Linked DNA regions of Homo sapiens. The protein of the gene in region 2 interacts with the protein of the main gene of each other region in a pairwise test. Each region holds a gene or a part of one and is shown on either strand. Other genes may lie near its edges.

What was found.
Region 1: the proteins of FMO3 (region 2) and SACM1L interact in binary tests that used the Homo sapiens proteins (3 or more experiments, as listed by UniProt).

Annotation. Positions count from the first base shown.
Region 1 is NC_000003.12:45,741,240-45,745,910, reverse strand, and holds the end of SACM1L (phosphatidylinositol-3-phosphatase SAC1), read right to left. Parts: intron 2,379-4,671; coding exon 2,242-2,378; coding exon of another isoform or gene 2,176-2,241; 3' UTR 502-2,175; downstream 1-501.
Region 2 is NC_000001.11:171,114,802-171,118,373, reverse strand, and holds the end of FMO3 (flavin-containing monooxygenase 3), read right to left. Parts: intron 2,167-3,572; coding exon 2,094-2,166; intron 1,275-2,093; coding exon 932-1,274; 3' UTR 555-931; downstream 1-554. UniProt on the Homo sapiens protein: Essential hepatic enzyme that catalyzes the oxygenation of a wide variety of nitrogen- and sulfur-containing compounds including drugs as well as dietary compounds.

The sequences.
Region 1 (4,671 bases), on a different chromosome or scaffold from region 2:
AAAATTGCAGAAGCTACTGATTTTCTTGCTTACTCTAATTTTTCTATGATGATCATGCATTGCTTTGTGTATTAATTTGTCTTCACACTGCTGTAAAGAACTACCTGAGACTGGGTAACATATAAAGAAAAGAGGTTTGACTCACAGTTCCGCATGGCTGGGGAGGCCTCACAAAACTTCATCATGGCAGAAGGTGAAGGGAAAGCAAAGCACATCTTAACACGGTGGCAGGAAAGTGAGCGAGCAAGGGGGTAAATGCCAAACACTTTTAAACCATCAGACCTCGTGCAAACTCATGAAAACAGCATGGGGGAAACCATCCCCCATGATCCAACCACCTCCCACCAGGTACCTCCCTCAACACGTAGGGATTACAATTTGAGATGAGATTTGGGTGGGTGGGGACACAGAGCCAAACCGTCTATCATTTTGCATGATTTTTAGCATTCTAAGATCAAAAAGAAAAACATCACTTTCAAAGTACATGAATGATACCAATAATAGAAAAGAATATGACATTTTATTTTCACTTATGGACATACAGTACATGAATTTAGAAATAAAATCGTCGCAGGATTCTGAAATACTGATACCTTAAGATCTAACACACTGATATTAGTCCATTCCCTACAAAGCAGCCACATTAGCAGTTCAGATTTGGTCTTTGTTGTAGCTGTTGACATTAAGTTCTTTAAGTGAAATGCCCAGCAGCATTTAAATAATATTTTACAGCAGACATGAACTAAGTTTCAATATTCCATCTTTGGAACAAATTATGCTTATTTACATGTTAACAGGTGGCTATATTTACTTACCCTATTGTGAGTTTAATGACTGATTTTAAACTACAGAGGGTTTTCCAGCTATTATTTCCTTTAGTTTCTAAAAGTAACGACTTATATTAATGTTTTATAAAAGATAGTGATGAAAAAAAGGTAATGCTGAAATAAAGGCGCTTTTAGAAATATTTAAGGACAACATAAGGTATTAATATTGGAAAAAAACTGTACATATTTTCAAGCACAACACTGAAATATTGCAGCAGTGTTTAACTGAATTATTTAAAATAGTGGTAATTATACTACCTTACATACCGTTCTAATATTTAAATCTCTTAATTACAATTTGAATATACAATCTGACTTACAATTAGAACTATGCACAGTTTCCGAAGCATATTTTTCAGGTTTGTTTTTGCACAAAAATTAACGTTTAAGTTGGTCCTTGATTTGGAGTACTATAACTACCTGGAAGCACTAAGTTTTAGACACATTCATTGATAGCCAACAAAATCCTTGACAGAGTGAAAAACATCAAGAGTACCATGCGTGAAAAAGCAGCTGTTACCCTCCAAGTGCAATATGAAATCTAGAACAAGACCCTCTCAGAGGCCTGCGTGTCTCAATGAGTGACCCTCAAAGAAACCAAAATGTATAGGAGGAAGTAGCTGACCAGTCATGGGCATCTTCCACATTGGGATAATCTTTAAAACAGAGGCAGCTTTGGACCTCTAGCGTAAGAGATAGACTTTACATTCTTTGATTTTATTTACACTTTTTTAAAAAGATAAAGTATATCTGAATTCTCTCATCACACCTAAACTGCTGGTGCACTGGCAGTTCAAGCTGATTAAAGTCATGAGGCAGCCCACCAGAGACTTTAAAGAACCCCAGACCTCATCCTCCTCTTTCCTATCATGAAGTCACAGACTGTCTCATCAAACTACTTGATGTCTGTAAGAGACTTACATTTTATAAACACAGTTAGCTTATTACTGAACTTTTAAGAAAAGTCCAAAGATGTGTGGAAAAGTATGCCTGCTAATAGTGACCGCTTCTACAATGACAATAATGAAACTGAGCTACAAAAATAATTTTGCTGTTTTAAATAATGAAAGGAGCTAGGTTTTTAAAATATATTACTTATTCTGCAACAGCTAATTAAATTGACAATCAATAGAATACAATGAACAGATTCAGCTTCCATTCTGCAAGCTGAATTCAGGTTATATTTTAATTACAGAATAGCTTCAAATTATAAATCTAACTGTCCCAATAGTAAAGAGACCATCAAGGCAGTAACATCAGATCAATTCTGTCATCATCCTGCATGGAGCACAAGATGTGCTTTTGGATAAAGGCATTAAAAAGACCTTGGGCTGATGTGGAAAGCGGGTCAGTAAAGACTCCAGTTCTGCACAATGGAATCTTCCAAGCCAAGCCGCTTTCCACAAATACAAATTCAGTCTATCTTTTCTTTCTGGACCAGTCTGGGAGCATCGACAAAATCTTTGCCATTGTAAAGAATGATAAAAAATGTTCCAATGCTTGCAACTCCCCAGAAGAGCACATAGGCCAGTGTTTCTGTCCAAGTGTCACCTGTTGATATTAAGAAACAAAAAGCTAAATAAGTCGTTTGTTGATATCAGACCCAGTTTTCAGCTGTTTAGCACATTTTGGCAACATTAAAGTTTACTAGCACATTCACAGGAAAAATATAAGAACCTCTTAATTAAGGTTTAAACCAGTGGTTCTCAAACCCTGGCTAGTACCAGAATCTTCTGCAGGGCTTGATAAAGCATCAACTGTTGGGCCCCAGGAATCTGCATTCTAGCAAGTTCCTAGTACCCAGGTGATGCTGATGCTACCGATCAAGAGGCTACACTTTGAGAACCACTGGACTAAATGATTTCATATTATATTATACAAATAATAATGATCACTTTTAGTATATTTTAATAATACAAATAACTATTAAGTTTAATTCATAGTTCTATAACAGATATGAGCTATTGTCAAAACACCTGCACAAAAAATTAATAGAATATTCATAAATACCAAACATAAGTTATACATAACTTTTCTGAAGTTATGTATATTTTGTAGAGTATTTTTTGCATATACACAAATATATAAAACAAAAGTCAATAACATTTTCTTTAGAGATGGGGTCTTGCTGTGTTGCCCAGGCTAGAGTGCAGTGGCTATTCACAAGCACCATTCCACTACTGATCAGCATGAAAGTTTTGTCCTGCTGTTTCCAACCTGTACTAGTTCACCATTCCTTAGGCAACCTGGTGATCTCCTGCTCAAAGAGGTCACCATATTGATGCTGAACTTAGTGCGGACATCCGATCAGCATAACACACTACAGACCAGAACTCCTGGGCTCAAGTGATCCTCCCACTTCAGCCTCCTGAGTAGCTGGGACTATAGGCACACACCACAGCACCCAGCCAATAACCTATTTTAATGACATATTTAACCCAACTCTGCTGATATGCATTTTCCAAAGTCCGAAGTTCATAAAGGTTAGCAGCAAGCCGGTGGGCAAAGATCTACTTTGTTTTACTCCTTGAATAGCTGAACCTAGAGAATAGCTTCTCTCTCTGCAACACTACTGGCCTCATTTGCAGAAGGAGAAATACATACAGGGAATGACAGCCAGTGAGCACACCACGGAAGAAACTAGCATCCAGACTCCTTCCTAACAAGCCCTCAGAGATCATGCTACATTTGTTTTCTATTCTCTTTGAAAACCACAGCAGGAGCTAGAAATCAGATATTACCATAACCAAACATCACAAAGTTTATCATAAGAATAAACTGACATGAGAAGTTACCATCCACAGCATCCAATCTCTTTTTACTCAAAATATACTCGAATTTGCATAATTGCTCATTTTCATGGCTCTGAAGTTTAAAATTCTTCTTGGACAAAAGAAGAAGGGCAGTTCCTTGTTAGCCACTCTGCTGGACACTCCCTAAAGGAATCATCCGTTTCATTCAAGCAGAGTTCTTGGTCTTGACTTTCCTGCCTCTCCAGAGGTTCTTTAAGTAAATGTGGGTATAGTCACAACAACAAAATGAACTAATTTAACAGTAGAGTGGCTCCCCAAAAATGGCATGCGCTGGGCAGTGTTTTCAGGAAAGAAGGCAGAGGACCCAGAGAGGAAATGAAAGCAGGGCTGGCCGCTGAGGAACCGGCACATGCTGCCTCTTCCTTCCTGCCCTAAAACCTGCAGTCATGTCCCAGGCAATACCTGTGCTTCAACCTGTTTTTGTATTGTAAGGTAAGAATGCTTTTTACATTTTTAAATGGTTATAAACACAAAAACAAAGAATGTACAGCCATCCATAAAGACAAAAATATTTACTACCTGGCTCTTTACAGAAAAATTTTGCTAACTATAATAATAATAAGATGGCTCTTTCTTTCCCCCTACTCAACATTTCAGCATTTAGTTAAAACTATGTCACGACTGTCTACAGGGCTGAGCACTGAGGGGAATACAGAGATGAACAGGTAACTGAGCCTCCCTATCAAAAAGGTGACAGAATTAGTGGTGGTGGTGGAGTGAGTCCTTAATTCAGCAAACATTTACTGAGGGCTCACTATATCCTGGACAAAGGAGATAAAACAATGAGTAAGACACAGTCTTTACCTTCAAAAAGTTGCTGATCCAGTGAAAAAAACAAACAAGTATGCAAATCATTACCATCCAAAAAGAAATACACACTGGGTATGTCAGGTACACCAAAGAGGTATACCACCTCTGAAAAATAACTCCCTATGTATTAATGAGGTTAAAAGAGGAAAGTGCTGGGAGAGAGGACCAGGAGTGCTGTGGAAATCCAGACAGAAGGTGAAGACTTCTGTGTGGGAGAGACA
Region 2 (3,572 bases):
ATACGTAGTATAATAACTAACTGGTGGAGCCCTCTGATGACTGATGATTCTGGCAGGTGATTTTATCTGCTCTATAATGTCAAAATTTAAAAATCATAATTATGAAAATTTTAACTATAAAATGTAATACACTATAAAATACAGTTTTAGATTTATTCTGGTACCTCGTAAGTTTATTGGGGTAGACTATATAAGACTATAAATCTTTAATCTATAAGCATTAGATTTTGGTCACAGTTTTGGCTAAATATTTAATTTTTAAAAGATTAAGCTAAAAGGTGTATTATTTGGTACTACACTCATTGCTATTGCTATTATTCTTTTGCTGCTAGAAGTTGAAAAGTTTGTTTCCTTATTGAGAATATAAATAAAACAAATTACTTTGTGTTAACTTTCAATATAGACCAGGTCTTTATGCTATGTTTCTTGGGCAGAGAAGAGGAGGTCTTACCTGGATTATGTTGCACAAAACAAACAAATGAAAAATAATGTAATAGCCAAGCTCCCCCCTTGACCCTGCAAATAGCTTATAGAAGTAGCCTGAGAGTATCATATTATAATTATTCTGCTTAATTTGCTCTTTATTTAGATTTAAAATACATCTTTCATACATTGTTTAAAAGGAAAAAGGAATCATGTCAAAATGTTTCAGGAAATGATTTAAGTTAGATATAAAGAACATAGTTCTGATTTTGAAGTGTTAGTGGAACTCAAACAGAAATGATTAGTGCTCTCTTAAGATCATGACATGATTCTTAAAGTGGCTATTTCAGAGCCTAGAAATAACACTGTATTACTGACTAATGTCTACAGAGTACTGCAAAAGATGCTGAATAGAAAAGCAGGTGGTGTGAAAATTTTAATTTTTAAATAGCAAAGCCCCTGTCTGGGTATTGTCAGTAACTTTCAGAAATCCTAGAGAAAATGATGATTAGGTCAACACAAGGAAAACAGCGATTAACAGAATAGGAATTGCAAAGAGCTTCAGCCAATGGAAAAAGAAGCAAGGCTTCTGAAGTCTCCCGACCACTCGTGTCTGCATGGGTTTCAACGACCGGTCCCACTGGGTCAGTATGGCATTTCTGGCTCCTGGCCACTGCCCTGGGCCCACCAGCCTAAACTGGTAGGGACTACAAGGGCCAAAATAAACTTCCATGGCCAATTTGGGATCTGTGAGAAACAGCCATGGGATGTTGGGCTTTGCCCCAATGAAGGAGGAGAGTTCATCCATATAAACAATGTAATCTGTCTGTATGGTCTCGCTTTTGCCAAACCTGGAGATGGGAGAGAAAACACCACTGTGGATACCCAAACTCTGTGTAGAAACAGAACAGAGAAAATGGCTCGCAACTTTATATCAGTGAGAATTAACATCAATCTCTCTCTCTTTCTAAAAAAATTTCCCACACTACCCTGACATACAACATCAATTTCTTGTATAAGGAGAATGTCATTTGTTTATCCTACTTTGTGGTTTTTTTAAAGAACTTTCATATGGTTTCATTTGGAAATACCCCAACACTGCAATGCAGCTGAGAAAGACATTTTTTATCCTTATTTACAAATGGATAGATTGCCTCTTGCTCAAATGACCCTTCTATAATAGTTCATGGCCACTGAGCTAATTAGTGACAACTAGAAATGGAGCCCAGTTCTCCAGATTCATTCTCACTTTTCTGAGTCATTTTCATTAGAGGTATACCTTTGAAATATCCTCTACATCTTAGAGAATTTATGGGCTAGAGAATGGAAGTCCACATCCATGTGTTCCCAAACTCCTCTGATTTCAAATCCTTTCTGGGTCTCCTTTCTATGATATATATTACAGGAGGCATGGAGGGCTAAAACTGTCTATGTAATGTAGATTCTCAATCCTATTATTTACTCTGTGCCTTGTACTAAAAAGAACTTAATACAATGTCAGAAGCAACGTAGGTCTTCAATTAATATTTGTTGAATGGATGAATATAGCTTGTAGTTGTCATTCCAATGATGTCATTCAGGATAATTTAAGATTAAAACAGTTCCAAGCATTCATAAATTCTCACTTTTCTATGGAAATCCTACACTCCTATTACAATAGGTACTCTTACCATTTGCGCTTTTTCTCCATTTTCTCATTAATATCATTCATCATGTCTTCCATAGAAGGCAAAGTACAAGTTCCTGATAAAGAAGGAAAGACACGATGGTAATTAATGAGTCTGGCATAGGACCAGCCTGTAATTTTCCCTTTTTAATAATGAGTTATGAATTACATTAATTGGTGTTCATTTTCAGACAGACACCAAATTCAGTTCTAGTCTTCTCAGAACTCATATTTGTCATAATAATTAAAAAACATTACCTAAATAGCTTTGCTCTTAAACTGGTTACAAGATGTTTCAAAACAGTTTCATAGATATATTTTAATCTCAGTCATATTTTAAGAATGTTGTCTTTTAAATTATAGCCAAACAGAGGTGAATTGGCATCACTTTTCCAAGATTTATGAAGAAAAATCTTCATAGAAATTAATCCTGCTTTGCCAGAAAATGGAATTTCCAGAAGATAAGATATCGAATTTGGTGAAGGGCTAAGTTTTTCTATGGGAAGCCAGTAGTTCTTGAATATGACTGAGGATATGGACTGTCCACAAGTCACCAAGGACATAAGGGAGACCCAGGAGACTAGATCTGACTTGGGGCTGCCCCAGGATCCAGGTTTACATAAGTTTGCAGAGTTCTCTAAAACCCAGACCAAAACAGCCTTTTGTGTCCAGAAATACTTCAAATTTAGGATGATTTCTTTGGTAATCTTGGTATCAACTTGAAAGAGAATAAAACTCTTAGCCCAGATATGATTACTCAAGACCTACAATGGCTTGCTTAATTTCCCATTTCTACACTTCTTATAGGGAGGGTCACTTGAACAGCTTTTGTAGATATGGTATGGTTCCAGGCCTTGGAACTTGTCATGCTTTTCAGAGGAAGAGATTGAAAAGAAAGAGACTGTTTTTTAGCCTGCCGACTACTGCCATTGGGTTGCTTGTAACTAGCCCCTCTTGTCTTGGTACTCTGGTTTTCCAAATCTAGGTTGTTTGCCTTGTGTCTCATTTCCCTTAAGAGAGCCTGTGCCGTGTACATCAATTTTCCCCATAAATTGCCTTGTTTCCTTTCTTCAGAGCCCAAGTTACAACTCTTGTCCTCATAGAGAGTAAGGGTAGCACCCTTCCTTTAATGCCAGCCTCTCTGGGTCTGAACCCTAAGTGGAATCCTGAGTGAAATTTCATGCCATTACCTTCCTGGCTACCTGGTCGTGTGATCTGCATCTCCCCACAACTGTATTCCAGCCTGCTGCTGGGGGATGCTGCCTGCCTTTCTTGCCTGACCCCAATCAAGTTTGTTGTTTCCTTTGTAAAATATAAGAACTCAGTATTCTTATGTATTACAGACTGATCATCTACTACACTGAGCACTTTCTGCCTCTATTGATCCACTGTTTGTTCTTAGCACTTTCTGCCTCTGTTGATCCACTGTTTGTCCTTTTTTTGTCAGGGAAGAAAATAATAGTAGAAAAGCCATTGCCTTCCA